4 separate regions of the Homo sapiens genome follow, and all the other regions are linked to region 3. The links come from fine-mapping of genetic effects on plasma protein levels. A gene starts in region 3. Each other region holds a variant in brackets. All regions are shown on one strand. Distances are between the middles of the regions. Region 1 overlaps ADGRE1 (adhesion G protein-coupled receptor E1). Region 2 has its middle 13 kb from the start of ADGRE1. Region 3 holds the start of ADGRE1 (adhesion G protein-coupled receptor E1). Region 4 overlaps ADGRE1 (adhesion G protein-coupled receptor E1).

What was found. PIP is the posterior inclusion probability: the model's chance that the variant is causal. Protein levels are from antibody-based Olink assays in UK Biobank. Linkage for the fine-mapping came from a reference panel and not from the study's own genotypes, which makes the PIPs less certain.
Region 1: its variant is fine-mapped to the plasma level of the ADGRE1 protein (UK Biobank, PIP above 0.99). The variant lies in the coding sequence of ADGRE1. If it changes the protein, the assay may bind it differently, which can mimic a change of level.
Region 2: its variant is fine-mapped to the plasma level of the ADGRE1 protein (UK Biobank, PIP 0.97).
Region 4: its variant is fine-mapped to the plasma level of the ADGRE1 protein (UK Biobank, PIP 0.99).

What each region holds. Positions count from the first base shown.
Region 1 is chr19:6,895,264-6,902,999 of GRCh38, reverse strand. It overlaps ADGRE1 (adhesion G protein-coupled receptor E1), which reads right to left. Exons shown (of 21, transcript NM_001974.5): 3 at 6,459-6,602; 4 at 5,696-5,851; 5 at 5,453-5,572; 6 at 979-1,125. It overlaps LOC105372256 (a long non-coding RNA gene), which reads left to right. Exons shown (of 3, transcript XR_936288.4): 3 at 942-1,008. Among named protein-coding and RNA genes, the nearest start is that of ADGRE1, 12 kb to the right of the region's middle. The variant C/G (reference allele first, on the strand shown) is at 1,050.
Region 2 is chr19:6,870,387-6,878,603 of GRCh38, reverse strand. No RefSeq gene overlaps it. Among named protein-coding and RNA genes, the nearest start is that of ADGRE1, 13 kb to the left of the region's middle. The variant C/T (reference allele first, on the strand shown) is at 5,088.
Region 3 is chr19:6,883,530-6,891,718 of GRCh38, reverse strand. ADGRE1 (adhesion G protein-coupled receptor E1) reads right to left here and starts at 4,140. Exons shown (of 21, transcript NM_001974.5): 1 at 4,080-4,140; 2 at 1,176-1,238. The coding sequence starts at 4,110. RefSeq lists an enhancer at 4,087-4,146.
Region 4 is chr19:6,905,525-6,913,524 of GRCh38, reverse strand. ADGRE1 (adhesion G protein-coupled receptor E1) reads right to left here. Exons shown (of 21, transcript NM_001974.5): 9 at 7,004-7,092; 10 at 4,753-4,836. LOC105372256 (a long non-coding RNA gene) reads left to right here. Exons shown (of 3, transcript XR_936288.4): 2 at 1,137-1,240. Among named protein-coding and RNA genes, the nearest start is that of ADGRE1, 22 kb to the right of the region's middle. The variant C/T (reference allele first, on the strand shown) is at 5,424.

The DNA of each region.
Region 1 (7,736 bases), 12 kb before region 3:
CTACCTCTGGCTTGCCCTTGAATTCTCTCCTGGGCAAAGCCAAGAACCCTTGTGAGCTAAACCCCACTTTGGGGCTTACCTGTCCCGAATAAAAAATTAGCTGGGCATGGTGGCACACACCTGTAATCCCAGCTACTCAAGAGGCTGAGGCAAAAGAATTGCTTGAACCTGGGAGGCAGAGGTGGCAGTAAGCTGAGATCAAGCCACTGCACTCCAGCCTGGGCGACAGACCAAGACTCCGTCTCAAAAACAAAAAACAGGCTGGGCGCAGTGGCTCATGCCTGTAATCCAAACGCTTTGAGAAGCCGAGGCAGGCAGATTACCTGGGGTCAGGAGTTTGAGACCAGCCTGGCCAACACGGTGAAACCTTGTCTCTACTAAAAATACAAAAATTAGCTGGACATGGTGCCACATGCCTGTAATCCCATCTACTTGGGAGGCTGAGGCAGGAGAATTGCTTGAACCCAGGAGGGGGAGGTTGCAGTGAGCCGAGATTGTACCACTGCACTCCAGCCTGGGCAACAGAGCAAGACTCCATCTCAAAACAAAACCAAAAAACAAAAAAACCCCAAAAAAACAAAAAACAAACAAACAAACAAACAAAAAGAGGCACACAGTGGAGGGGTTGAGAACATGGACATTCTGGGTTCATAGCCTGGCTCTGTCACTTACAAGCTGTTTGTTCATGGGTGCTATGGACTGAATGGTGCCCCTCCTCCAAATTCCTATATGGAAGCCCTAAGCCCCAGTGGGATGTTATTTGGAGATGTTATTTACTGCTCTATCCCCAGTGCCTAGAATAGTGCCACGTATACTGTAAGTGCTCAAGAGGTATTTCTTTAATGAGTGAATGAATGATTATTGGCTTCAGATTTGCAGATGAAAGTCTCAAACTCAACCAAGACCCACCCTAATCCCCTCACTGCTGTCTTTTCAAACAGACTTGGACCTGACTTCTCAGAAGACACCCCCACCTACCTTCACACGATGCTTTGAGACCCTGGAAACTCAAGTGGCCACTGCTGGATTCAAATCCTGGGTTGCAGAAA[C/G]AAGAGTAGTTTCCAACAGTGTTATTACAAGTTGCATGCTCTGGGCAAGCTCTTGGATCTGCACATTCATCCACGTCTGAAGAGTGGAAGAGAAAACCCAGGTCAAGGTAAATGAGAAAGCAAGGAGTAGAGACTACAAATAGGAGATGCACTCTGAGTGTTGATTTTCAGCAGACAGGGCTGATGCTCCCCAATATCCATGTTCCCCCCTTCTTCCCAGGCACACAGTGGGACATATTTCCCAGTTCCTTCTTTCAGTAGGCATGGCCATGAGAGCAAATTCTAGCCAATAGCATGTAAGCAGAAGGGTGGCAAATAGTTTCAAAACATAATTATCAGAAATTGGAAAAGTAGCCATAGTCCTTTACTTCTCTCTGTATTTACACCCCAAGATGTAGATTGTAAGAGATGTGACTTTACCATACCTTGCATTAAGAGGTGGAGTCTGTTTCTCTACCCCTTAAATACAGCTGGCCCTACGACTTGCACTGACCAATAGAAGACAGTGAAGTAATGAGGTGCTAATTCCAAACCTGGGCCTCAAGAGACCTGTTGGCTTCTGTTCATTCTATTGGGCCTCTGATCTCTGCCATATGAACAAGCCCCTGACTAGCCTAATGAAGAACAAAAGACCAAATGGGAGAGAAATGAATCATCCCAGATGAGCCCCAGACATGTGAGACCCATTCCCTCCTCCTTGTAATAATGTAACAATACAGCTGAGGACTGCATTCCCAGCTTCTCTTGCAGCTAGGTGTAGCTACATGGTGAAAATCTGGCTAAGGAGAATAAATAGAAGTGATGTGTGCACCATCTGGTCATGCCCTTGAAAAGAAAGAGCATACTCTACACTTCTTCTCCCTTTTCACCTGGGCTGGAAGATGGACAGAGTGGGGTGATCCATTCCCAACCATGGGGATGAGGCTCACACCTAAGGTGGCAGAGGCAACAAGACAAAAGCCCAGCCAAGGTCAGCTGACTGCAGACACAAGAACAAGACCAGTTGAGACCAAAAGATCTGGCTAGAATAGACCACTTAAAATGTCAACTCATGGAATCAAGCGCTAAATATATGGTGGTTGTTTTTAGACACTAATTTTTAAGACAATTTGTTACCCAGTGATAGCTCACTGCTACAAATGGAGTAGCAAAGGCAGAGATGATTTCAAACATCTCTTAAACTAAGCCAGGGGGATATAATGAGGGCTTGACCACTCCTTGCCTTTCTCAATGGAGTCACCATCCCATAAATGAATGTGGAGAATAACAATGCACTAGACACAGGAAGATGGAGCTCTTGTCTCTTGGTGAGGACATTCTGGCTGCAGTGTAGAGGATGGATTGGAGAGAATAAGACTGAAAAAGGCAAGACTAGAGAGGAGGCTGCTGCAGTGATGATCAAGCCTGAACCAAGGATGGAAAACAGTGGAGGAATTCAACACATATTTATTTATATATTTATTTTTGAGACAAGGTCTTGCTCTGTTATCCAGGCTGGAATGCAGTGATGCAAGCATAGTGCACTGCAGCCTCAACCTCCTGGTTTCAAGTGATCCTCCCACCTCAGCCTCCTGAGTAGCTGGGACCACAGGCACATGCCACCACACTTGGCTAATTTTCTAATTTTTTTTTTTTTTTTGTAGAGACAGGGTCTCACTATGTTGCCCAGGCTGGTCTCAAACTCTTGGTCTTAAGCGATTCTCCCATCTCAGCCTCCCTAAGTGCTGGTATTACAGGTGTGAGCCACCACACCCAGTCTCAAAACATATTTAGCAGGTAGATTCTCCAAGGTGTGATGACTGCTTTAATGTGAAGGGAGAGAAAAGATTAAAGATAACTTTCTTTTTTTTTTTTTTTGAGATGGAGTCTCGCTCTGTCACCCAGGCTGGAGCGCAGTGGTGTGATCTCGGCTCACTGCAAGCTCTGCCTCCTGGGTTCACACCATTCTCCTGCCTCAGCCTCTCAAGTAGCTGGGATTACAGGCACGTGCCACCAGGCCCAGCTATTTTTTTTTGTATTTTTAGTAGAGACGGGGTTTCACCTTGTTAGCCAGGATGGTCTCCATCTCCTGACCTCATGATCTGCCTGCCTTGGCCTCCCAAAGTGCTGAGATTACACGCAGGAGCCACTGCGCCCGGCTGATTAAAGATAACTTTCAACTGTTAATTCAAATACCTTTTAGGGGAACGTTCTGAAGTTTAGACTTTAGAATCTCCCCAGAATAGGTTTTGTGTGTTTTGTTCTTCTTGTTGTTGGGTATTTTTTTTTTTTGAAACAGAGTCTTGCTCTGTTGCCCAGGCTGGAGTGCAATGGCACAATCTCAGCTCACTCCAACCTCCGCCTCCCAGGTTCAAGCAATTCTCCTGCCTCAGCCTCCCGAGTAGCTGGGATTACAGGTGCCTGCCACCATGCCCGGCTAATTTTTTGTATTTTTAGTAGCGACAAGGTTTCACCATGTTCGCCAGGCTAGTCTTGAACTCCTGACCTCAAGTGATCCATCCGCCTTGGCCTCCCAAAGTGCTGGTATTACAGGCGTGAGCCACCGCGCCCAGCCCAGAATAAGGTTTTTCCACCTCAGCACTATTGGCATTTAGGGTCAGATTATTCTTGGTTGTGGGGGCCTTTCGGTGCATTATAGGATGTTTAGCAGCATCTCTGACCTCTTCCCATCAGATGCCATACACAGCACCTCTCCCCACCATCACCGGTTGAGACAATCAAAAATATCTCCAGATGTTGCCAATGTCCCCTGGGGAAAATATCGGTCTGGAGACAAGTGCACCCCATTATATTCTGATACCATTGTTTGACTTATAGTAGGTCCTCAGCAGGAGTTCAAATCCCAGCTCTTCCACTTAATATTTGCATATAGTTCACAGATCCTATAAAGCAATTACACAACTGAGATCACAAAGCAAGTAGCGAGCAACACTGTGACAGGAACAAAACCCTCAAATATCAATATTAACCTTGAACAGAAATGGCCTAATGCTACACTTAAAAGATATAGATTGTTAAACCAGATAAAAATTTTTGTAAAAAAGACCAAACCATGTGCTGCCTACAAGAGACCTACCTAACATGTAAAGACACCCACAGGCCCAAAGTAAAGGGATAGAAAAATATATAGGCAACTATATATTTTTACCTCTCTGAGCCCCAATTTTCTCATCCCTACATGAGAAAATCCCTTTCTCATATGGTCTTCCAGTGAGATGACCCTTAATTAATTAAGCAGGTAAATAATAAAGAGATAGAGTTTCTAGAGATGAATCCAACTTGACAGCTGCAATTGTAGCTTCCCATGGAGTTGACACAGTCAGAATGCTCAGGGCAGACGCTGCTGGTGAGGGACTCACTGATATTTGCAAAGCAGTGAAAGAGGGTGAGCAGATAAGAAATTGGGTGCCTCAGTTCAGAAATACATGAACTCACCCCACTGATAGATATCCACTCAAGACCCATCCCTGGGAACCTGAGGGCATCACCAGTACAGGAGAAATTGCCCGGCTTTCCTGGGATCCAGTCATTTCCAGTGGGAGAAGAGAAACCATCTAAACAGCTGCACTTGTACCTCCCTGACATGTTTTTGCAGGATGAATTAGGACCACAGGGCTGGGGGCTTTGAGAACATTCATCAATATCTAGACAGAGAATTGGAGTTACAAATTCACTTATACTAGATAGAAGACTGTATTTTGCCAAAAAAAAAAGTTAAAACAATATCTCCCATCCCATATGCGCTTCACTTTGGTACTTCTTCTGTCAAGCAATGGAAGGTACGTCCCCATCTTGAATCTGAGCATACTTGTGACTATGGTGGAAGTGACACTAGGTCATAAAAATATCATGTACTTCCACCTTGTTCTCTTGGGATGCTTATCCTTGGAATCCAGCCACCATATTGTGAGGAAACTCAACCATCCATGAAATTTTACAGTGACCAGGAATTATTTACATGATCAGAGAGAGGAAGGGTGGGGAAGTAGGAAGGAAGGAAGGAAGGAAGGAAGGAAGGAAGGAAGGAAGGAAGGAAATCATGTTTGCTAGCAATACTAGCTAGCAATGCTGTGACAGGAACAAAACCCTCAAATATCAATATTAACCTTGAATAGAAATGGCCTAATGCTCCACTTAAAAGATATAGATTGTTAAACCAGATAAAAAATTTTTTAAAAAGACCCAACCATGTGCTGGCTACAAGAGACCTACCTAGCATGTAAAGACACCCACAGGCTCAAAGTAAAGGGATAGAAAAAGATATAAGCAACTATATATTTTTACCTCTCTGAGCCCCAATTTTCTTATCCCTACATGAGAAAATCCCTTTCTCATATGGTCTTCCAGTGAGATGACCCTTAATTAATTAAGTAGGTAAATAATAAAGAGATGGTCATGGATACCTTCACAGGTGGAGTTTCTAGAGATGAATCCAACTTGACAGCTGCAACTGTAGCTTCCCATGGAGTTGACACAGTCAGAATGCTCAGGGCAGACGCTGCTGGTGAGGCACTCATTGATATCTGAGAAGCAGTGGAAGAGGGTGAGCAGATAAGAAATTGGGTGCCTCAGTTCAGAAATACATGAACTCACCCCACTGATAGATATCCACCCAAGACCCATCCCTGGGAACCTGAGAGCATTACCAGTACAGGAGAAATTGCCCGGCTTTCCTGGGACCCAGTCATTTCCAGTGGGAGAAGAGAAACCATCTAAACAGCTGCACTTGTACCTCCCTGACAGGTTTTTGCAGGATGAGTTAGGACCACAGGGCTGGGGGCTTTGAGAACATTCATCAATATCTAGACAGAGAATTGGAGTTACAAATTTACTTATACTAGATAGAAGACTGTATTTTGCAAAAAAAAAAAAAAAAAAAGTTAAAACAATATCTCCCATCCCATATGCACTTCACTTTGGTACTTCTTCTGTCAAGCAATGGAAGGTATGTCCCCATCTTGAATCTGAGCATACTTGTGACTATGGTGGAAGTGACACTAGGTCATAAAAATATCATGTAGTTCTACCTTGTTCTCTTGGGATGCTTATCCTTGGAATCCAGCCACCATATTGTGAGGAAACTCAACCATCCATGAAATTTTACAGTGACCAGGAATTATTTACATGATCAAAGAGAGGAAGGGTGGGGAAGTAGCAAGGAAGGAAGGAAGGAAGGAAGAAAATCATGTTTGCTAGCAACACTAGCTAGCAATGCTGTGACAGTAACAACACCCCCACATATCAATATTAACCTTGAACAGAAATGACCTAATACTCCACTTAAAATATATAGTTAAACCAGATTTAAAAAAAAATGGGGGGTGGGGGAGTACCTACATTCAATACCCAGCCAGCTTTGACTTGATTTTCCTACCAAATGCTGGATGGTTTGAGGGGACATGAACTCACCTTTGCATCGCACTCCTGGATCCTTGAAGTGATTTTGCCCATTGCTGGACAGGAAGCCTTGTTTGCAAGCGCAATAGTAACTGTCCACTGTATTGGTGCAGGTGGCATAAGCTGGGCACAAGGTACTGTCTCTACAGTTATTACCTAGGCAGTGTATAAAGAAAAGTTTAGACAAGATTAGAGCATTAGAGTGAGGCTGCAAGGGAACCCAGCATACAAGGGTGGAGGTGACTGTTATGGGTTGGATTGTGTTCCTCCCAAAAGATACGTTACAGTCCTAAACCCTGGTACCTGTGAATTTCATCTTATTTGGAAACTGGGTCTTTGTAGATGCAATTAAGATAAAAGTTAAGATGAAGTAGTGCTGGAGTAGGGTGGGCCACAGGTGTCCTTATAAGAAGAGAAGAGACACACAGACATGCACAGGGACAGTGCCATGCAACAGTGCAAACCGGGATCAGAGTGATATGTCTAGAAGCCAAGGAACACCAAGGATTGCCAGCAATAACAAAAGCCTTAAAAAAAGGCATGGAACAGATTCTGCCCTATAGCCTTTGGAGAAAGACTGGCCCTGCCAATACCTTGAATTCACACTTCTGGACTCCAGAACTTGAAGAGAATAAATTTCTGTCATTTTAAGCAGCCCTAGGAAACGGATACAGCAACCAATCATATTTAACCATGTACCTCAAAGATCCTAGACCCTTTCTACTCAGAGTAGGGTCTGTGAGTCAGCCACATAAGCATCTCCTGGGAGTTAGATGGAAATGCAAAATCCATTGAATCAGAATCTGCATTTGAACAAGATCCCAGGTGATGTGTGCGCACAGGGAAGTTTGAGAAGCACTCATCTGGATCCTTGCTACCCAAAGTATCCACAGACCAGTATCACCTGCCTCCCCTTGGATTCCAAGAACATCTTGGAAAATCAGGTACTAATTCAGCAGGTCTGGGGAAGGGGGCCGGGGATTTTGCATTTCTAACAAGTGCCTGGAGGATGCCAATTCTGTTGCTCCATGGATCACACCATGAACATCCAAGCACTAGACAGAAAAGTGTGAGAGTGAAAACTGCAAATTTCGGGACAAGGCAGATCTGAGTTCAAGTTCCAGCAGCAAACCTCAAAGCCAAGAATGGTGGCTGTTCCCCCAAATCCATTCCACCCTCTTCCTTATAATAATAGAACCATCCAGTTTAGGACTGCATTCCCAGCTTCTCTTGCAGCTAGCTGTGGCCACCTGGTGAAAATCTGGCCAAGGAGAATGAATAGAAGTGATG
Region 2 (8,217 bases), 13 kb after region 3:
AAGAGTTTAGGCTTTACCCTCGGGGCAATAAAAGGAGGTTCAGCAAAGGAGCCACAGGCTCAGGTTGGAATTTTATGTTTGTGTTTTGTAGGTGGGTATTGGACAGGATGGGTTCACAGGTGGGCAGATAGGGAGGAGGCTGGGGATACAGCCAGGAGAGAGAAGAGAACAGTGGCCTGGTCTGGGGCAGGGGCTATAGTGACGGAGAATTTAGGAGGCAGGAACAACCGAATTTGGGGACTGTCTAGATGTAGCAGGGGAGTTTGAGACAGAAGAAGGATTCGACATTTGGAGGCTGGGCTAAAGAGTTGGAAGGTTTTGCAATCAAACCCAGATCCCTTCTGGGGATGGGGATGGGATGAGGCTTGCCACGGACCTGGCAGCTTGGGGAAAACACAGATTTAGTATATGATGGGTCCAGAGGTCAGAGTCCTCTCGAGTCTCATGGGACTAAAACCAAGATGCCAGCAGGGCTGCAATCCTTCCCGAGGCTCCAGGGCAGAATCCATTCCTTGTCCTTTCTGGCTTCTGGAGGCAACCCACATGCCCTGGCTCATGGTCCCTTCCTTCCTATGCAAAGCCAGCAGCTAGCAGTTTCAAATGTCTCTTGCGTACTCTAAATCTCTCGTTCTTGCTCTCTCTCTCTCTCTCATTTTCCCTCTCTCTTGCTCTCTCATTCTCTCTCTTTTTCTCTGTCTGTCTCTCTCTCAAGTTCTCTCTCTTGCTTATTCTCTCATTTTTCCCTCCCTCTTGCTCTTTCATTCTCTCTTTTTTTTTTCTCCTTTTTTTTTGAGACAGAGTCTCAGTCTGTCACCCAGGCTGGAGTGCAGTGGTACGATCTCGGCTCACTGCAACCTCCGTCTCTCGGGTTCAAGCGATTCTCCTGCTTCAGCCTCCCGAGTAGCTGGGATTACAGGCATCTGCCACCATACCTGGCTAACTTTTGTATTTTTAGTAGAGATGGGGTTTCACCATATTGACTAGACTGGCCTTAATCTCCTGACCTCAAGTGATCCGCCCGCCTCGGCCTCCCAAAGTGCTGGAATTACAGGCGCGAGCCACTGCGCCTGGCCCATTCTGTCTGTCTTGTTCACTCTCCTTATTGCTCTTGTTCTCTCTCTCTCTCTCTCGTTCTCTCTCATTCTTTCTCTCTCTCTCACTCTCTGTGTATCTCTATCTCTCCATCTCTCTCTCTCTCCCTGATCCTCCTGTCTCCTTCTCGTAAGAATTCTTGTAATGACATTAGGCAGAGGTTGCAGTGAGCTGAGATCGTGCCATTGCACTCCAGCCTGGGCAGCAGAGTAAGACTCTGTCCCCACTCCCCCCACCTCCCCCCCAAAAAAATAGCCCTTAACTGAATCCCATCTGCAAAAGTCCCTTTTGTCATAGAAGGGAACACATCCTTGGGCTTTAGGGATTAGGCTGTAGGTGCCTCGTGGAGGGAGAGGAGGCCCTTTATCCCACCTACCACAGGCAGGGTATCGGGTCCTAGTGAGACACTGAAAACCCAAGACTCCAGACACCCTTCAAACCCACAGAGGTGACCGAAGCTATATAAAGACTGTCCTGCAGCGGCCCTGCAGAGTTGCGGGTGGGGGTGTAAGAACAGGAAGGGGAAAGATGTGGAAGAGGAAATCAACAATTCTGGCCAAGAAGCTTACAAAATCTAACCCCTAATGACTTCCCTAGCAAAGGGGAATACAAGGGACTCTCAAGATTGAAGAAATCAGCCTGGGGAGCTGCAGGAACATCACTTACCGTCACACAGAGTGCCGGGAAGGGGCAGGGAAGTTGGGGAATCCCTGCCTAACCTGTCCACGCCCTGCTTAGACTCTAAACCCTTCCATGGCTCCCTATTGCCCTCAGGATGAAGTTCAGGCTTATTAATATGGCACTCAAGGCTCTACGTAGTCTGACTCTGGTCTCCCCATCTTGTTTTATTGATCTCCACTCCCCCTAAAGCCCTAGTGATCAGCTAGACACAGTGGCTCATGCCTGTAATCCCACCACTTTGGGAAATCAAGGCAGGAGGATCGCTTGAGCCCAGGAGTTCAAGGCAACATACTGAGATCCTGAATCTACAGAAAAAAATTTTTTTTTAATTAGTTGGGCATAGTGGCTGGTGCACACCTGTGGTCCCAGCTACTCAGGAGGCCAAGGTGGGAGGACTGTTTGAGCCCAGGAGTTCAAGGCCAGCTTGAGCAACATGGAGAAACCCCATCTCTATAAAAGAAAATTTTTAATAAGCCAGGCCTAGTGGTGTATGCCTGTAGTCCCAGCTACTCGGGAGGATTGCTTGAGCCCAGGAGGTCAAGGTCACAGTGAGCCGTGATGGCACCAGTACACTCCAGCCTGGGCAACAGAGTGAGACCCTGTCTCAAAAAAACAACAACAAAAAGCCCCCCAGTGATTATAAAATACTTGAAGTCCCTGTTGTGGGTGCAGTCAACGCTCTGCTCACTGACCTTTCCCAGGCTGGTGCACCCATCCTGGGGCTGCTGTGAGTGAGTGCTGCCTACAATAGCTCATAGCTCACAGCTTCCCCCTTCTCCTCAGCTGAGCAACTGTGCAAACCCTCAGACCCAGCCCACAGCCATAACGGATGGTCACAGAGGTGCAGAAGGCCAGCCCCATGCCCCCAGGGTGAGACCAACCTGGTGGCACCAGTCACACTCCAGGGCTCCCCATGGGATCCGGCTAAGGCTGGACTCCAGCTAAGACCACTTCCTTGCTTAGCTCATTCCCTTGCTCTGTCCTGATCTTCTCCCTCAAAAACACCTGTGCACAAGAAACCTCACAGCAAGTTCTACTTCAAACTCTCTCTCTTTTTCTTTTCTTTTTTTTGAGACAGGGACTTGCTCTGTTGCCCAGGCTGGAGTGCAACGGCTCAGTCACAGCTCACTGCAGCCTCAACTGCCTGAATTCAAGCAATCCTCCCACCTCAGCCTCCTAAATAGCTGAGACCACAAGCATACCCTACCATACCCTGCTAATTTTTTTTTTTCTCTTTTAGAGATGAGATCTTGCTTTATTGCCCAGGCTGGTCTCAAACTCCTGGGCTCAAACGATCCTCCTGCCTCAGCCTCCCAAAGTGCTGGGATTACAGGCATGTGCCACCAAACCCAGTTCTCTCTTGACACCAAGTCTGAAATGCACATTCACCCCAATCCTATACAACCTTTCTGTGTAAATATCACCTCCTCCAGGAAGCCTTCCTTGACTTCCACTTGAGAGTGAGGCGCCTCCTCCATCCTCCCCCCCCATCACCATAGTCAGTATTATCTATGCTTGCTTGAATGTCTGTTTCCCTCAAAAAACTGAGCATTTTCTCAGGGCAGGGAAAGAATTTCATTGGCTGTTGTATCCTAGAAAATAAAGAAACAAATGAGGAAAAAGAAGGGAAGAGAAATAGATGAATCTACTGAACTTTGCATCCCTACCCCGCTTCCCCAGAAGGAAGACCACAATTCTTGAGGGGGTGAGAAATGAACAGCAGCTGCCCTTTTGCAGGAGAAAAGAATCAGGGTTTCTAAGAGGGAGGTGGATGCAAAGACTTCATTGTCCTCCAAAGACTTCATGGTTTATCTATGGCTCCTAAGGCTCTTTCTTTAAAGGTAGGGGTGGTTTATCAGGCGTCCCGGAGACCCCCCTCCCCAAGCTCAATGATTCTCTAAGAAGACTCAGCATATAGTCTTGCTAATGGTTATGATTTGTTACAGTGAAAGGATACAGAGCAAAAAGTCAGAAGAGGGAGCCAGGTGTGATGGCTCATGCCTGTAATCCCAGCACTTTGGGAGGCCGAGGTGGGTAGATCACTTGAGGTCAGGAGTTTGAGACTAGCCTGACCAACATGGTGAAACCCCGTCTCTACTAAAAATACAAAAATTACTACAAGTCTGTAGTCCCAGCTACTTGGGAGGCTGAGGTAGGAGGATCGCTTGAGCCCAGGAATTTGAGGCTGCAGTGAGCCATGATTGCACCCCTGCACTCCAGCCTGAGTGACAGAGGAAGACCCCATCTCTAAAAAAAGAAAAAAATTGAGAAGGCGTTCTGACAGTCCCACTCTACCCAGATGAAAAGAAATCATTTTCTCAAAAAAATACCCACACTTGTAGGTTTATCACAGCACTATTCACAAGAGCAAAGATATGAAATCAGTCCAAGTGTCTTATCTACAGACAACTGGATAAAGAAAATGTGGTGTATGTGTACTGGGTCTGTCCCGCAGACCCTGGCCGATGGGATGAAATGAGTAGTCAGACACAGGTATGCAGTGTAAGAGCAGCCAGGTGACTGCCTGGCTCTAGCGGCCAGAGAGCAGCCCCGAGAAGCTGGAGCTGCTTGCATTTGTTCAGTGTGGGCACAATGCCAAAAACATGGAGTACACACAACCTGTAGGTAATTAACATTTATTGCTCCCCTTTCAGGGAACATCACATAGGCAGATGATCAAAAGTCAGTTCCTGGTCAACGTAAGTAAACAGGCCTGCTTAAGATAAATTCGCCCACACTCCCTTGTACCTACTCCTTGCCCTCTGCCTCAGGGTTATAGAACAGCTGCCTTCAGCTATTCCTCCCCCGGGGCTCTGCAGAACCTTCCAAACTTTCAGAAGGTTTGAGTCCTTTCCTTATAGTTTTTCCAACCACTCTGACTGAACCCCCCACATATATGAACTGTGGAATACTACTCAGCCATAAAAAAGAATGAGATCATGTCTTTGGTAACACCTGGATGGAACTGAAGGCCGTTATCTTAAATAAAACAACTCAGAAACAGAAAGTCAAATCCACATAGTCTCACTTATAAATAGGAGCTAAATAATGCGTGCACATGGACGTAGAGTGTAGAATAATAGACACTGGGGACTTGGAAGGGTGGAAGGGGAGTGAGGGATGAGAAATTACTTAGTGGGTTCAATGTACATGGCTCGGGTGATGGCTACACTAAAAGCCCAGACTTCACCACTAAGCAGTAATCCATGTACCAAAACTGGACTTGTACCTCATACATTCATGCAAATTTTTGAAAAAAGACAGAAAAGAAGCCAGACACAAAGAGGGAATAAACTAAAAGGATCTTGTATTAT[C/T]CAAGATTCTCCAGAGAAACAAAACTAAGAGGAGAAACAGAGAGACAGAGAGAGGGAGACAGAGAGTCAGAAAGAGAGAGAGAGTGATTTTAAGGAACTGGCTCACGGGATTGTAGGGGTTACAAGTCCGAAATCCCTAAGGCAATCTGACAGGCTGCAGATTCAGGTAAGAGGTGATACTGCAGTCTTGGGCCCAAAGGCTTAAAGCACAGGCAAAATGTCTTTCTTCTTTTAAAATTTATTTTATTTTATTTTATTTATTTTTTGAGACAGAGTCTCACTCTGTCACCCAGGCTGGAGTGCAATGGCGCAATCTTGGCTCACTGCAACCTCTGCCTCCTGGGTTCAAGCGATTCTCTCGCCTCAGCCTCCTGAATAGCCGGGATTACAAGCATGCACCACCACGCCCGGCTAACTTTTGTATTTTTAGTAGAGATTAAAAATGGGGTTTCACCATGTTGGCCAGGCTGGTCTCGAACTCCTGACCTCAAGGTGATCCACCCACCTTGGCTTCCCAAAGTGCTGGGATTACAGGCGTGAGCCACCACACCCAGCTTTGTTTCTTTTTCTTTTTTTTTTTTTCCCCGAGAGGGAATTTCACTCTTGGGTTGCCCAGGCTGGAGTGCCATGGCGTGATCTCGGCTCACCGCAACCTCCGCCTCCCGGGTTCAAGCAATTCTCCTGCCTCAGCCTCCCGAGTAGCTGGGACTACAGGCATGTGCCACCATACCCAGCTAATTTTGTATTTTTGGTAGAGATGGGGTTTCACCATGTTGGCCAGGCTGATCTTGAACTCCTGACCTCAGGTGATCCACCCACCTCGGCCTCTCAACGTGCTGGGATTACAGGTGTGAGCCACCGCACCCAGCCTTGTTTCTTTTTAAAAACATTTTTAAATGTGTATTTTTAGTTCTGGGGTACATGTGCAGGATGTGCAAGTTTGTTACACAGGTAGACATGTGCCATGGTGGTTTGCTGCAGCTATCAATCTGTCGCCTAGGTATTAAGCCCAACATGAGTTCACTATTTTTCCTAATACTTTCCCTCTCCCAACCCCACCCCCTGACAGGCCTCAGTGTGTGTTGTTCCCCTCCCTGTGTCCATATGTTCTCATTTTTCAGCTCCCACTATAAGTGAGAACATGTGGTATTTGGTTTTCTGTTCTTGCGTTAGTTTGCTGAGGATAATGCCTTCCAGCTTCATCCGTGTCCCTGCAAAGGACACGATCTCATTCCTTTTTATGGCTGCATAGTATTCCATGGTATATATGTACCACATTTTCTTAATCCAGTCTATCATTGATGGGCATTTGGGTAGATTCCATGTCCTTGCTATGTGAGTAGTGCTGCAATGAAAGTACACATACATGTATCTTTGTAATAGTATCATTTATATTCCTTTGGGTATATTTGCAGTAATGGGATTGTTGGGCCAAATGGTATTTCCGGTTCTAGATCTTTGAAGAATCACCACACCATCTTCCACAAGGGCTGAACTGATGTACTTTCCCACCAACAGTGTAAAAACATTCCTATTTCTCTGCCACCTCGCCAGCATCTATTGTTTCTTGACTCTTTAATAGTGGTCATTCTGACTGGCATGAGATGGTATCTCATTGTGGTTTCAATTTGCATTTCTCTAATGATCATTGATGTTGAGCTTTTCTTCATATTTTTGTTGACTGCATGAATGTCTTCTTTTGAGAAGTGTCTGTTCATGTCCTTTGCCCACTTTTCAATGGTGTTGTTTGTCTTTTTCTTGTAAATTTGTTTGAGTTTCTTGTAGATTCTGGATATTCGACCTCTGTCAGATGGATAAATTGCAAAGATTTTCTCCCACTCTGTAGGTTGCCTGTTCACTCGTTTTTTGTTTGTTTGTTGCTTTTGTTTTTGTTTTGTTTTGTTTTTTGAGACAGAGTCTTGCTCTGTTGCCCAGGCTGGAGTGCAGTGGCACAATCTCGGCACTGCAGCCTCAGCCTCCTGGGCTCTAGTGATCCTCCCACCTCAGCCACCCCAGTAGCTAGGACTACAGGCATGTGCCATCATGCCCAGTTAATTTTTTGTTTGTTTGAGATGGAGTCTTGCTCTGTCACCCAGGCTGGAGTGCAGTGGCATAATCTCGGCTCACTGCAACCTCCTTCTCCCAGCTTCAAGCAATTCTCCTGCCTCAGCCTCCCATGTAGCTGGGATTACAGGCACCCACCACCACGCCCCGCTAATTTTTATATTTTTAGTAAAGACAGGGTTTCACCATGTTGGCCAGGCTGGTCTCAAACTCTTGACCTCATGATCCACTCTCCTCAGCCTCCCAAAGTGCTGGGACTACAGGCGTGAGTCACCAGGTCCGGCCATTGCCTGTTCACTCTGATGACAGTTTCTTTTGCTGTGCAGAAACTCTTTAGTTTAATTAGATCCCATTGGTCAATTTTTGCTTTTGTTGCAATTCACAGGCAGAATTTCTATATCTCTATGTTAAAGTCTGAAGTCAGAATTCCTTCTTCTTCGGGAAACCTATCTTTGCTCCTAAGGAATTCAATTGATTAGAAGTGGCCCACTTACTTTATAGAGAGTCATCTAATTTACTGAAAGTCAACTGACTATAAACATTAATCATAGCTTAAAAATACCTTCCCACAGTCTAGACAAGTTGACATATAAAATTAACCACTCTATGTATTTGAAATTCTAGAAAACACAAACCATATATGGTTAGGGGTAGAGAAAGCAAATCAGTGGTTACCTAGGGCCGGGGTGGAGGGAAGGATGAATTACAAGAGGGTCCCAGGGGACTTAGGGGAATGATGGAAATGATCTATGTATATTCTTTAAGATGGAGTCTTATTCTGTTGCCTAGGCTGGAGTGCAGTGGTGCAATCTCGGCTCACTGCAACCTCTGCCTCCTGGGTTCAAGCAATTCTCCTGCCTCAGCCTCCCAAGTAGCTGGGATTACAAGCGCGCACCACCATGCCCAGCTAATTTTTGTATTTTTAGTCGAGACGGGGTTTCACCATGTTGGCCAAGCTCGTCTCCAACTCCTGACCTCAAACGATCTGCCCACCTTGGCCTCCCAAAGTGCTGGGATTACAGGCATGAACCACCGTGCCCGGACTGATCCATATTTTTACTGTAGC
Region 3 (8,189 bases):
CCAGCACTTCGGAAGGCTGGGGTGAGCAGATCACCTAAGGAGTTCAAGACCAGCCTGGTTTCTAGTGAAACCCCGTCTCTACTAAAAATACAAAAAAATTAGCCAGGCGTGGTGGCGGGCGCCTGTAGTCCCAGCTACTCGGGAGGCTGAGGCAGGAGAATGGCGTGAACCTGGAAGGCGGAGCTTGCAGTGAACCGAGATCGCACCACTGCACTCCAGCCTGGGCAACAGAGCGAGAATCTATCTCAAAAAAAAAAAAAAAATGTGAAAGATGAGCTGTTAACACAATATAGACCAAGTTGCTAAGTTGCCCAAAGAAGAACCAGGAAACAGAGACACTGGGAACAGTTGTATTAGTCTGTTTTCATGCTGCTAATAAAGACATACCCGAGACTAGGTAATTTATAAGGGAACGAGGTTTAATTTGACTCACTGTTGCACATGGCTGGGGAGGCTTCACAATCATGAGGAGCAAAATTATGTCTTACTTACATGGCAGGAGGCAAGAGAGCTTGTGCGGGGATCTCCCATTTATAAAACCATCAGATCTCGTGAGACTTACTCACTACCACGAGAACAGTATGGGGGAAACCATCCCCCATGATTCAATTATCTCCAACTGGCCCCGCCCTTGACACGTGGGGATTCTTACAATTTAAGGTGAGATTTGGGTGAGGACATAGCCAAACCATATCAACAACTACGAACTGACAATGTCTTTCTTCCTTTATCCAGCAAGAGTTTATGTAGATGAGAGTATTTAACAAAACATAAAGAAGTCACTTTTTTTTTGCACATTGAGTTGTAGTTTGAGTAAATTCCATCCCTACTCTCACTACACTACCATTTATAAAGCTCATACTACATACCAGGTGGTTTCCAAAGCTACCTCTTTGAATTAAAGTTTCACAACATCCCTATTGTTATCTGTATTTCACAGCTTGGGAAACTGAAGTTCAGAGAGGTTATGTGACTTATCTGAGATCACACAGCAATTCTAAGCACAAAGGAAAGAGCCTGAAGTGAGAATCAGGAGACTTGCATGTTAACCCTTGCTCTGCCGCTAACTAGCTCCCAGCAAGCATCTGGATGAGGCTCAGCTTCCTGGGATGTTTCCCCGGGGAGAAAACTTTCTCTACCCCTTCAGGCATCTGCATTCTCTCTGGCCAACTTACCCTTTGTGTTTGGTTTCCGTGTGGGTCTTATGTGCCCTTCCCAGCTGTGCATAACACAACATCCTGTGAAGAAAGAAAAGAAAAACACCATGAACCACCAAAAAAAAAAAAAAAAAAAAAAACCTTTTGGGCTCAACCTGCAAAATTACTCCTGGCTTGGCCCCACAGAAATAGGTTTGAAGAGGCTAGATGACAAACCTAGTTAAGGAACAAACATACACTATTTTGCATAAGCTTAACAATGACCATTCCTGGTTTTCTGTACTTTGCTTTTGCTTTTCATTTTGTCTGTCTTTATCTTCTTTTTCTTTTTGATTAAATAGTTCCAGGCTAAGCACTGTGGTGCACACCTATAATCCCAGCCCTTCGGGAGGCCAAGGTGGGAGGATCACTTGAGACCAGCAGTTTGACACCGGCCTGGACAACACAGTGAGACTTTGTCTCTACAAAAAAAAAATTTTTTAAATTAGCTGGGTGGTGGTGACAACTTGTAGCCCCAGCTACTCAGGAGGCTGAGGTGGAAGGATTGCTTGAGCCCAGGAGATAGAGACTGCAGTGAGCCAAGATCATGCCACTGCGCTCCAGCCTAGGTGACCCTGTCTAAAAAAAAAAGTTCTAGCTGATTTTCAAAAACATACATTAAAGCATGCATTCTCAAAAGGGGTGATATATCCTCTAAGGACCCAAACTTGGTTCTCAGGAAGAGATCTTTTTAAGCTTACTCTTTTATGTATAAGATACATATGTATATATAGAAAATACATATATAGGTATACAGTATATCTGTAGTATTAACATTTCATGAGAGGGTAGGGCAATTCGTTTTTCTTTCCTTTTTTTTTTTTTTTTTTTTTTTGAGATGGAGTCTCACTCTGTCACCAGGCTGGAGTGCAGTAGCGTGATCTAGGCTCACTGCAACCACCAACTCCCTGGTTCAAGCTATTCTCCTGCCTCAGCCTCCCGAGTAGCTGGGATTACAAGCACGCACCACCACGCCCAGCTAATTTTTGCATTTTTAGTAGAAACGGGGTTTCTCCATGTTGGCCAGGATGGTCTCGATCTCCTGACCTCATGATCTGCCTGCCTCAGCCTCCTAAAGTGCTGGGATTACAAGCGTGAGCCACTGCGCCCTGCCCATTTTTTAGTGTTTAAAGGCAATGCAGCCCTGCAGCATTTAGGTCTCCTGCACCATCATCATTATCGCCATCATTATCACTATCATCATCACCATCATCATCTTCATCATCACCATCATCATCATCATTATTATCACCATCATCACCATTATCATCATCACCATCACCATTATCACCATCACCACCATCATCATCATCACCACCATAATCACCAACATCACCATCTTCATCGTCATTATCACACCATCATCACCACCATCATCATCATTATCCCTATCATCACCATTATCATCATCACCATCATCACCATCTTCATGGTCATTATCACACCATCATCATCACCATCATCTTCATTATCACTATCATCACCATTATCATCATCATCATCATCACCATCACCATCATCATCACCATTTTCATCATCACTATTATAACCACCACCATCATGATCATTATCATCACTATCATTATCACAACTCTTTGCTGATTATCTTCAGGGCAGAATAGGGAGTGTTAATGGTTAATACCATTGCCAACACCCCAAAATAACAACTCTGCATGCCTACATTTGATGTCCACAGGCCACCTATTTCTTCTAATGTAGCCTGCCAGTCAACAAGTCCCACAGATCTAAACTCCCAAATTCTATCTATTATTACTAACAAAAATTCTTCTACTCATTCATTAATTATTTTAGAGGTAATTCAGCATGCTGTTTAGGCATACAAAGTCTGAAGTCAAAGTGCTTAGGTTTAAAAATCTGGCTTCACCAATTAATGATTGCGTGGCCTTGAGGAAGTTATTTAATCTCTTTGTGCCTCAGTTTCCTCCTTGGTAAAATAGGGTATTCAGATCCACTCTTCAACAGCAGAGGAAACCCATACTTGCTACTTAGAATATGTCCCCAATATCCTCCATTCTTAAATTTGATCCAATGACCAAAACACACAAGACATAGAAGAAAAACCAGAAACACAGAAGATAAACAAGGCTGAGACAAACTGACACCTGAAGAAAGAGAAATAAGAGCACAGGAAGGGTCTATCTCATCCTTCAGGACTCAGCTCGAACTGCCCCTCCTCAACCCCAGACTTCTCCCTTCAACATAACTCCCGACCACATTCTATAACAACTTCTTTCATAGCACTTATCACTACCTGAAATTCCTATGTTTACTTATTTTTTGGGGCAACATAGTATAGTGGAAAAGCTTACAGACTCTGAAGTCAGACTGTCTGGCTTGAAATCCTGCCTCTACCCCTTATTGACTAAGTGGCCTTGGGAAAATTATTTTATCTCTTTTGCCTCAGTTTTCTCATTTGCAAAATAGGACTAATAATGACCCAATGTCATAGAAATGTTGTGACAATTGGATACACTCTATGTTTAAAGAAGTTACAGCAGTGCTAAGTGGGCTATGATCATCTGTGCCTTCTTTCCTGTCTGCTCCTACCCACTAGAATATCAGCCTCAAGAGTGCAGGAACTTAGTCTTTTTTTCTCACTGCTATATCCTCTAGTGCCTAGAACAGCACCTGACACACAGGACTTGCTCAGGTCAAATGAATGACTATAGAGAAAAATCTATCCTAACAGATGGACTTCCCTGAGCTATGGAATTTTGTCAAAGGTTCCCTGAATGAAGGTGTTTGCAGCATCCAGTCTGGACTTATGATCTCTTGGCTGGACCATCCATGGCCCTCCCATTTCTCCTGAAGTCTATTTCCAATCCAGGCCTCCCCTAGCCCCCCATTCAGCCTCACACTCACCCCAGAAGAGGAGCAGGTTGAAGCCACGCATTATGCTGTAGTTCTGTCATTCAAAGAAAAGAAACTTTTCTACTAACGCTGGGTTTTCAGTAACCAGAAGGTGTGCGAAGAGGGGAAGGCGGAGTCAGAGTTGCTCAATGCTGCCTGGTCATCATAGCCCTTTTTGCTGACTTGCTGCAACTAAAAGACAGCCTAGAAAATCCTAATTTCCCCCTTTCTTCACAATAAAGAGAAGTTAATCTGCCTAATGTATATCATTCTCTCTCTCTCTCCTTCCCATGGTCTCTCCCTTTTTCTTTCCCATCAACATCTATCTCCCATCTCTCAACACCTTCTTTCATTGCACCCAATAAAGGAGCTTCCGCTTCCTGCCTCCAGTGAAGCAAATCTCAGCCTTTAGGGTCTCTTCCCAGTCTCCCGTATAAAGACAGCCATCACAACCATCATGTACCAGGCAGTGTGCTAGGCACATTGGCAACAAAGTGTAATTTCATTATCATGTTAACCTTGTAAAGTAGGAATTCCCCTCCCTCCCTCTATTCACCAACAAAATGGAAACTGAGACTTGCAGAGGAGTTATAACTTGTCCAAGATCTCTCAGACTTGAGATTTGAACCCAGGACCCTCTGATTCCAGAGTCAAGAGCTTTAACCATCTTATTTTCCTTCAGATCTCAACTCTGTCTGACGATTATACAGCAACACTTCCACCCCATTCCCAGCTTCCTAACTCTCTCTGGTAACATCTTAGGGTCTCACAAGGGCAGACCCTCAGACAAGGATTCTAGCAAAAGTAGTTTATCAAGAAGGTGGCCCCAGAAAGCACCAGCTGGGGGAGGAGAAAGTGAATCAGGAAAGGCAAAGAGCCAATACTGGGTGTGTCTTCAAATAAGTTACATGGTGAGAAAGTGGAACTTAACCTCCCCAGGGATGACTGGGGAGCGGCATGGAACATACTCTTCAGTTATTCCAACCGAGGGGTGAGGGAGCTGAGGTATTTATATCCCACCTACTGTCAGTCATGGGTTGACTTGAGGCTTGCTCCTAGAGGGTGTCAACCCCTTGAATCTTCAGGCCTGGCCTCCAAGCAGATAGAATGGGCTCCAGTTGATGTAATCCCACTGATAACAAAGTGTAGTGACTGGCAGATATTGAAGCAGTGTCATCCATCTGGGGTAATACCCGAGGTTCATTGCCTCACACCAAGGAAATAGAAAATACAGACATGGCCGGGCACCGTGGCTCACACCTGTAATCTCAGCACTTTGGGAGACTGAGGAGGGTGGATTACGAGGTCAGGAGTTCAAGACCAGCCTGGCCAAGATGGGGAAACCCCGTCTTTACTAAAAATACAAAAAATCAGCCAGTGTGGTATGGTGTTAGGCACCTGTAATCCCAGCTACTCCGGAGGCTGAGGCAGAGAATTGCTTGAACCCAGGAGGCGGAGGCTGCAGTGAGCCGAGATCGTGCCACTGCACTCCAGCCTAGGCAACAGAGTGGGACTCTGTCTTAAAATAAAATAAAATAAAATAAAATAAAATAAAATAAAATAAAATAAAATAAAATGCAGACACACAAAAAATTACTTTTAGAGCAGAGGTTTAGGCCGAGCACAGTGGCTCATGCCTGTAATCCCAGCACTTTGGGAGGCTGAGACGGGTGGATCACCTAAGATCAGGAGTTTGAGACCAGCCTGGGCAACATAGTGAAACCCCATCTCTACTAAAAATACAAAAATTAGCCAGGTGTGGTGGCTCATGCCTGTAATTCCAGCTACTCAGGAGGCTGAGGCAAGAGAATCGCTTGAACCCGGGAAGCAGAGGTTGCAGTGAGCCGAGATTGTGCCATTGAACTCCAGCCTGGGTGACAGAGCAAGACTCCATCTCAAAAAAAAAAAAAAAAAGAAAGAAAGAAAAGAAATTTAATAGGCGAGAGAAAGAGAAAAGCTCTCTCTCCTGCAAAGAGAGGGGGCTCCCAAGTGGGTCTTCCAGTTTCATGGTGAAATGCACGGGGTTTTATAGATGAGCTTTAGGTGGTGATATCTGATTTACATAAGGGCCCAAAGATTAGTTGGACCAGGTGTGCCGTTTACATAGAGTACAAAGAAGCTGGCTGCCCACCCTAATATTTTATTATGCAGATGGGGTCTCTACCTGGCCAGGACCATGTTGCCTGTTCCTTTACCGTACACGTGGTTGATAAAGAAAAGGGAACATGGAGCAAGCCTGCATGTTGAACACGCCTGGCACCCAGGTAGCCTATTCCCATTGGCACAGCTGCCGGCATTCACCCGAGCAAGCTTCCAGCTTGCTTTTCTATGTCTGCCGGCTGATTTTTCAGACTGCTCTTTTTTAGAAAAGAAATTATTTGGCCGGGCGCGGTGGCTCACGCCTGTAATTCCAGCGCTTTGGGAGGCCGAGGCGGGTGGATCACAAGGTCAGGAGTTTGAGACCAGCCTGACCAACATGGTGAAACCCCGTCTCCACTAAAAATACAAAAATTAGCCGGGCATGGTGGCATGCGCCTGTAATCCCAGCTACTCGGGAGGCTGAGGCAGGAGAATTGCTTGAATCCGGGAGGCGGAGCTTGCAGTGAGCCGAGATTGTGCCGCTGTACTCCAGCCTGAGCGACAGAGCAAGACTCTGTCTCAAAAAAAAAAAAATAAAATAAAATAAATGATTTGGGGGCTGCTTTTTATTAAAAGGCAAACCTTACCGAGGACTCTCTTGCCCTCACTCTCTGCCTAAATAACTTCTTTCTAGCTCCCGTATCAGCGTTAAGCTAGGGCATATTAATGTGTTGTTAGGTTATGGGTGTGGGCAGCCACTGATAGCAGCTGTCACAAGGTACAAAGGAGGTGCATAGAACATCCCCGAATTCTTAGAAAGAAAAGCTCCACGTGTTTTTGCCTTCCCCTTTTGTTCTTTGCAAAGCAAACTACCAGCTTTGGAGTTATTGTCACTGGAACAAAGATTCACCAATGGCTTTCTTTTTTTATTTTATTTTATTTTTTTTTCTGAGATGGACTCTCGCTCTGTCACCCAGGCTGGAGTGCAGTGGCGTGATCTTGGCTTACTGCAACCTCCGCCTCCCGAGTAGTTTCTGGGATTACAGGCGTGTATTACCATGCCCAGCTAACTTTTGTATTTTTAGTAGAGACGAGGTTTCACCATGTTGGCCAGGCTGGTCTGGAACTCCCGACCTCAGGTGATCCTCCCACCTTGGCCTCCCAAAGTGTTGGGATTACAGGCCTGAGACACCGCGTCTAGCCAGATTCATCAGTGGCTTTCTGTTTGTGCCTTCATTCTTTCCCCGTTGGCCCCAAGAATACTAGCTGGTGGCGCTTGTGGCTGCAGCATTTACCCAGAGATAACTTTGCCGTGAAATATCTCACCTTTATTATTATTTTTGCATTGCTCTAGTGTATCAACTTTGAAAACAAAAGACATGATTCTATTTATAGTGTTCTGTTTTTAGTAGGGATATTTCCAGATTACTATATTTTACAAAATATGGTATTTTTTACTATATACTATAGTATATTTTACAAAATACAGTAATTCTTGATTGCTGAAAATGTCAGATCCTAGAAAAGTGTAGCATTCCTACGCATGATGTTACTATCATTCTCAAACAGTTGTTGGCTGAAAATTTATCTGATGAATCCAATTTTTCCAAAATTGACGATTCTGATGTTAGTTCTGGTTAGAAATAACTCCAAGAACTGTTTTTATATTTTATTTTCACATTGAAAATCAGTCAGATTTGGCTGGGCACGGTGGCTCACACCTGTAATCCCAGCACTTTGGAAGGCCGAGGTGGGTGGATCACCTGAGGCTAGGAGTTCAAGACCAGCCTGGCCAACATGATGAAACTCTGTCTCTACTAAAAATACAAAAATTAGCCCGGCATGGTGGTACGTACCTGTAGTCCCAGCTACTTGGGAGGCTGAGGCAGGAGAATAGCTTGAGCCTGGGAGGCAGACGTTGCAGTGAGCTGAGATCGCACCACTGTACTCCAGCCTGGGTGACACAGCAAGACTTGGTCTCAAAAAACAAACAAAAACAACAACAACAACAAAACAAAACCCCAAAGAAATATGAATAAAGTG
Region 4 (8,000 bases), 22 kb before region 3:
GCTCCTTTTTCTGATTCAAGAAGCCCCATCAGAAATACAAATTCAGGCCGGGTGCAGTGGCTCACACTTGTAAGCCCAGCACTTTGGGAGGCTGAGGTGGGTGGATCATGAGGTCAGCAGTTTGAGACCAGCCTGGCAAACATAGTGAAACCCTGTCTCTACTAAAAATACAAAAAAATTTAGCCGGGCATGGTGGCACGTGCCAGTAATCCTAGCTACTTGGGAGGCTGAGGCAGGAGAATCACTTGAACCCAGGAGGCAGAGCTTGCAGTGAGCTGAGATCGCACCACTGCACTCCAGCCTGGGCGACAGTGAGAGAGGCTGTCTGAAAAAAGAAAAAAAAAGAAATACAAATTGAAGTTCAGGAATTCAAGACCAGCCTGGACAACATAACAAGACCCCATCTGTACAAACAAATTAAAAAAGAGCAGGCACGGTGGTGCATGACGCTAGTCCCAGCGACTCAGGAGGCTGAAGTGGGAGGATCTCTTGAGCCCTGGAGTTCAAGGCTGCAGTGAGCTATGATCACTCCACTGCACTCCAGCTTGGGTGACAGAGTGAGATCTTGTCAAAAGAAAGCAAGAAAGCAAGCAAGAAAGACAAATTGATGTAACCTTTATGCAATGCAGTAAGTTTGTACCCATAGCCATGTAAATTGCATATACCCTTTGACACAGCAATTCCCCTTCCTGGAATTAATCTTTTCAGAAATACTTAAAAGTTGTGCAAGGATCTTGTCCAGTGATGTTCATCTCAGGATAGTTTGTGGAAAGCCTAAATGCCCTACAGACTGGGTCAATAAATGAAGATGAAATCAAATAACAGCCATACAGCTGTTAAAATGAATATTGCAGTATACCTATAGGCATTAACAAGCAAAAGGGTCTCTGAGCCACTGTTCACTAAAGCAAATTACAGAGTATCATGTATATAGTATTGCATTTGGTTTAGAAACAATTGGTTTAATTTAAAATTTTATATTATGGTATTTATGTTCTGGCATATAGAAATAAAAATAGCACACACTTATTACGAGCCAGGTATTGCTCTAAATGTCTTTTATATATTAACTTGTTTAATTTGTAGAAGATATCTATGAAGTAGAGGCTATTTATGATTATTTTGATTTTTGAAAGGAGAAACAAGGACTCATATCTAGCAGGTGGAAGAACCACGATTTGAACCTTGGCAGTCTGGCAGCAGAGGCTGAATCATTAATCACTGTCCTAAACCTCTCATAGTAAGTGCTCAATAAAATGACTGCACTGTGTGTGCATGTGTGTGTGTGTGCTTATATATGTGGGTGTGTGTATATGTGTGTATGTGTTGGGTTGTGTACATGCGTGTGCATGTGTGTATATCTCTGTGTATGTCTATGTATGCCTATGTATGTATGTGTGTTTGTGTATATGTATGTATACGTGTGTGTATATATGTGTGTTTGTGTATGTGTGTACATTTGTATATGCCTGTATGTATATATGTGTGTATGTGTGTCAGGAGTGTGTATATGTGTGTGGATGTGTATGTGTGTATCTGTGTGTAGATGTCTGTGTATGTCTGTATGTGTGTATGGGTACATGCATAGATGTGTGTATACATGTGTGTATGTGTGTAAATGTGTGTGGGGTGTATGTGTGTAAATGTGTGTGGGGTGTGTGTATGTGTGTAAATGTGTGTGGGGTGTGTGTGTATGCATTTGTATGTGTATGTGTGCATGTGTATGTATGTTATATGTGTATATGCATATGTATATGTGTGTATGTGTGTACATACTGTGTGTGCATGTGTGTGCATGTGGGGGAGGTGTATATGTGTGTGTACACGTGTGTATACGTGTATGTATTTGTATGTATGTGTATGTGTGTGCGCATGTGTGTATATGTGTGTGTGTTTATTTGTATGTGTATGTATGTATATGTGTGTATGTGTGTACATGCTTACAAGGTAAAAAGATAGGGGAAGATACTTATCTACCTCTTAACACTGGATGTGTTTGAGGAATAGGATTAAGGTAAGAAAAACAATAACAACAATAGTAATAGTAATATTCATATGATTCCCCTTATTATTGATTATTATCAATAAATTGACTATCACATGTGACTCTGACCCAAGCAAAAAAAAAAAAAAAAAAAACTAAAAGGAATCCAGAACCTAATAAATGCAGGAAAATGCATTAAATGAATTAAATCCAGTCAGATGGTAGAGGAAATTAAACTGAAATTTGAGCAGCAATACAAGTTTCTATCTATCCAAATTAGATGATAAAAGGAAAAAAAGGATTTCAATAAACACGGGGTAAGCGGGACATTTGAGAGATATTTGTCCAAGAGAAACAGGAAGCCCTGAGCTCTGTAATCCCCAAAAGGCATGGGTGTGGGACTCCCCTCCCCACTGACATAGCAGAAACATCTCAACTAGGACCATCTCCAGGAAACATAGTACTCAGTTCGACAACTGGCAAAATCTCTTCAAATCCCGCCCCTCTGATATGTTAAATTTATTCTTAGCTAGGGAAGTTATTTTATATCCTCAGGAAAGTTAGAAAATTTTAGGCAAACTAAACATCCTTAGTAGGATTTGTGTTAAATTTAGAAGTTTTTGACATCTTTAGCATAATCTAGAAACATCTCCTATTTAAAGAGTTGGGGCTGGGTGTGGTGGCTTATGCCTGTAATCCCAGCACTTTGGGAGGCTGAGGTGGGTGGATCACCTGAGGTCAGGAGTTCGAGACCAGCCTGGCCAACATGGTGAAACCCCGTCTCTATTAAAAATACAAAATATTACCCACGCTTGGTGGTGGGCGCCTGTAGTCCCAGCTACTTGGGAGGCTGAGGCAGGAGAATGGCATGAACCCGGGAGGCGGAGCTTGCAGTGAGTCAATATTGCGCCATTGCACTGCAGCCTGGGCAACAGAGCAAGACTCCATCTCAAAAAAAAAAAAAAAAAAAGAGTTGGAACAGTTTGACACATTAGAGAAGCTAACCAATAAACCACATAATTTTATTGCAAAAAGCAATTAGACTTGTTATTTTAATATGAACAATTTAAGAGAACGTGGCTATTTATAAACCATATTGAATGTCTAAAAGAATCTGAATTATTATATTTATAGATTCGATCGATTGGATTTATGAGTCGCTCAGGACCCAAGTGACTTTGCCTATTAGATTTGTAAATCCTCTTCACCAGGTACTTGAAATTTGGGTGGAGCGGGAGGGGGGAATTGGAATATTTATAAACATAGTATAAAACATTCGAGGAAATTGAACTAAGTTTGTAAATAGGATTAATCATTTATCAAAATTTAATCTGAAAACCCTAGGGATGAATGTATACTTTATGAATAAAAATAAATGTATTAATTTAAAATTAATACAATTATAAGTAAAAGTGTTATTCTTATTTTCATACAAAAATAACCAGATTTATAAAGAAAATGACAATATCAATGAGTTCAACTTAAAGCTTAAGAAAAACTAGCTTTTGGCTAGACTTGGTGGCTCACACCTCTAATCCCAGCACTTTGGGAGGCCGAGGCAGGTGGATCGCCTGAGGTCGGGAGTTTGAGACCAGCCTGATCAACATGGAGAAACCTCGTCTCTACTAAAAATACAAAATTAGCCGGGCATGGTGGCGCATGCCTGTAATCCCAACTACTCGGGAGGCTGAGGCAGGAGAATCGCTTGAACCTGGGAGGTGGAGGTTGCGGTGAGCCAAGATCGCACCATTGCACTCTAGCCTGGGCAACAGAGCAAGACTTCATCTCAAAACAAACAAACAAACAAAACAAAACAAACAAACAAAAAAAACCACCAACCAATTCTGTCCCCCTGAAAAGATGAGAAAGATGAGAAAGTTCTTGAGATGGATAATGGTGATGGTTATATACAGCAATGAGAATGTGCTGAATCTCATTAACAGTAAAAAGGAAGGAAAAGAAAGAAGGAAGAAGGAGGAGGAGGAGGAAATGGCATTGTTTATATACACACTATCCAGGCATCTCAAATGCACTATGCTGAGTCAAAGAAGCCAGTCTCAAAAGACCACATACTATGTGGTTTCATTTATATAACACTCTTCCAAAGACAAAACTCTGGTGACAGAGACCAGATCAGGGATTTATAGAGTTTAGTGGTGGAGGGAGTATCTGACTATAAAGGAGAAGCCCAAGGGAATGTTTGGAGATAATTAAACTGTTCTGCATCCTAATTATAGTGGTAGTTCAACAAGTCTATTCAGGTGAGAAAACTCATCAAACTATACAAGTAAAAAGGTAATTTTACTGTATGCTAATTTTTCAAATCTTACAGCTATAAAAAATTAAATATTAATTCACAATCCATTCATTATAAAGAGATATTTCTTTCTTTCTTTTTTTTTTTTTTGAGATGGAGTCTCAGTCTGTTGCCAAGGCTGAAGTGCAGTGGTGCTATCTTGGCTCACCACAACCTCCACCTCCCGGGTTCAAGCAATCGTCCTGCTTCAGCCTCCTGAGTAGCTGGTACTATGGGCACCTGCCACCATGCCCGGCTAAGTTCTGTATTTGTAGTAGAGACAGGGTTTCATCATGTTGGCTAGGCTGGTCTTGAACTCCTGACCTCAAGTGATTCATCTGACTCAATCTCCCAAAGTGCTGGGATTATGGGTGTGAGCCACCACGCCCAGCCATAAAGACATCTTTCTGCACCCAAAGTGTGCCCAAGATGTTTGAAACTCAAAACACAATTTAAAAGACCCAATCGTTACCTTCAGAGAAACTACGGTCGTTTTATTTTCACACACTTTGTCCAGAACGCTGAAGATGTTATTTATTTGTGCACAAAAGGAGACCTGCGTCCCAGAAAAAAAAAAAAAGAGCATTTGTGAGCATGAATCGATGTATTCCCCCAAGCATGTAATCTACAAATTAGCCCATAAAGCCCATCATATGAGGTGGCTCTGAATTCCTGAGTCTCTAGAATTCTCAGGGAAACTAAAACTCATTACTTGATCAGAATTAGAATCACATCACCTTTTCCTTCCATGAATAAAAAAAGCAAACATAAACAAATAGCAAAACTACTTAGTGATTGCTGAAACCAGCTCAATCGGGGACACCCTAAGCCAGCGGCACTAGAGAAATTATAGACACACACACAGGAATATAGAGGTGTGAAGTGGGAAATCAGGGGTCTCACAGCCTTCAGAGCTGAGAGCCTTGAACGAGGTTTACCCACGTATTTATTAACAGCAAGCCAGTGATAAGCATTGTTTCTATAGATATTAGATTAACTAAAAGTATCCCTTATGGGAAACGAAGGGATGGGCCGAAATAAAGGGATGGGTCTGGCTAGTTATCTGCAGCAGGAGCATGTCCTTAAGGCACAGATGGCTCATGCTATTGTTTGTGGTTTAAGAACGCCTTTAAGCGATTTTTC[C/T]GCCCTGGGCTGGGCAGGTGTTCCTTGCCCTCATTCCGGTAAACCCACAACCTTCCAGTGTGGGCATTATGGCCATCATGAACATGTCACAGTGCTGCAGAGATTTTGTTTATGGCCAGTTTTGGGGCCAGTTTATGGCCAGATTTTGGGGGGCCTGTTCCCAACCAGTGATATTAAAAGAAGAGGAAATGTATGAACTAACAGTGGTCCATGTGGAATATTATTCAGCCATAAAAAGGAATGGAGTTCTCTGATATGTACTACAGCATGAAAGAACCTTGAAAATATCATGCTAAGTGAAAGAAGCCAGACACAAAGGAGCAAACATTGCATGATTCCATTTCTGTGAAATGTCAAGAATAGACAAATCCACAGAGACAGAAAGCTGATTAGTGTTTGCCATGGGCTAGTGGGAGGGGAGAATGGGGAGTGACTGCTTAGTGATAAAAATATTCCAGAACTTGGCTGAGCACGGTGCTCACACCTGTAATCCCAGAACATTGGGAGGCTGAGGCAGGTGGATCACTCAAGGTCAGGAGTTTGAGACCAGTCTGGCCAACATGGCAAAACCCCGTCTCTACTAAAAACACAAAAATTAGCCAGGCATGGTGGTGGGTGCCTGTAGTCCCAGCTATTTGGGAGGCTGAGGCAGGAAGAATTGCTTGAACCCAGGAGGCGGAGGTTGCAGTGAGCCAAGATCACCCCACTGCACTCCAGCCTGGGCAACAGAGCAAGACTCCATCTCAAAAAAAAAAAAAAATTTCTAGAACTAGATTGAGGTGATGATTGCATAACATTGTGAATGGTCTAAGTGCCACTGAATTGCACACTTTAAAATAGTTAAAGTGGTGAATTTTATGTTATGTGTACCTCACCACAATTAAAAAAGAAAAACAGTGGTCCAAGGCATGTGGGAAGCCCATAGCCAATTTACAAGCTCATATTTAGAATAGTGACATTGATTTCTAAAGAGGTCATGGAGTCTTTACTCATTGTAATGACTTCATTAGACAGTCAGGATGTCCAAATTCCTTTTGGCCTGGCTGGCTGTGTAACACCCCCACACCAACATTACTCAGTTGCAGCATCAACACCTTCACTGGCAGGAAGACTCCAATATATTCTCCCGTTCTTTTATTAAGAGAATCCTCAAGTTTTAGATAGGCAAACATTCTCTCTTCCCAGCTTCCCTTGCAGCTAGGTGGGACCATGTGACTAATTTCTACCCAATCAGGTGCAAGCAGAAGTGGTGCTGGGTCATACGCTTAAAGAGAAGGACCGTACTTTTCACTTCCTCTTCTCCCCTTCCCACAAGCTGGAATGCAGATGTGAGGGCAGGAGCTGGAGCTGCCACCTTGGGCCACAAAGTGGGAGTCTTGTGTTGATGCTGGCAGAGCATAATGGAGCCATGGTATGAGCTCTGCACAGCTTACACTCAGCAGGTTACAGAGGAGAAAAATAAACTGCTGTCTGGTTTTGGCCACTATTACTTTTGCCTTTGTTAGAACTGCAAAAACAACATTCTACCTAAATGGCTTCTAAGAAAACCTCAAAAACTAGGAACCTTAAAAAATACTTGCATATGCAGGTTTCACTGCGGTTCCCTCTTGGCATTGCTGGATCTGCTTATTATCGGGTATCACATCTTCCTTACATTTGAAGAGAACCCCTAGGAAGAAAACAACAGCAACCAAACCAAACTTCAACCTCAGCAAAATAAGATGAAAATTCAAGTCTGATTTCATGTCCTCCCGTGCCCGACTTAAAATCCATCTATTACCCTAATACACAAGGGGGAAAATGAACAAACCACAACTACACACTACAACATGAAGGACGTGTTTACTACAACACACAATTTTCTAATTTGCTCGGTTTCACTCAATATCATGCCTCTTAGAGGCAATCATGCATATGATTGTGGATGTATGTCTTTTATATGTGTGACTTCTCACTCAATATTATGTCCCTGCACAGCTTACACTCTAAGAGGCATGATATTGAGTGAAACAGAGCAAATTAGAGAAGTCATACATATAAAAGACATACATCTATAGTCATATGTAGTATGATATCATTTTTACAAAGCTCCAAACACAAGCAATACTAGGCAGATATTGTTTAGGGGTACATACCATGGGAAAATATTTTTTTAAGTAGGGAAATAATAAACACAAAATTCCAAGTGGCTGTCTAAGGAGGATACAAGGAGATAGAATGGAGAAGAAACATATAGGAGAACCAGCGACATTGATGATATTATCTTTATTATATTTGGAAATACATCAGATATATTCATTTGCTTGTTATACTTCATTGCCTCCAATAAGTTACACATATTTTTAATGTAATAAATAATACATAATTTAACAGTTTTAAACCTTTCATGGTTCCCCATTATTCTTGGGGGGAGGGGAAAGGACTCTGAAATTCTTTTTTAAAAGAAAGGTTGGCCGGGCACGGTGGCTCACACCTGTAATCCCAGCACTTTGAGAGGCTGAGGTGGGAGGATCACAAGATCACGAGTTCAAGAACAGCTTGGCCAACATGGTGAAACCCCATCTCTACTAAAAATAC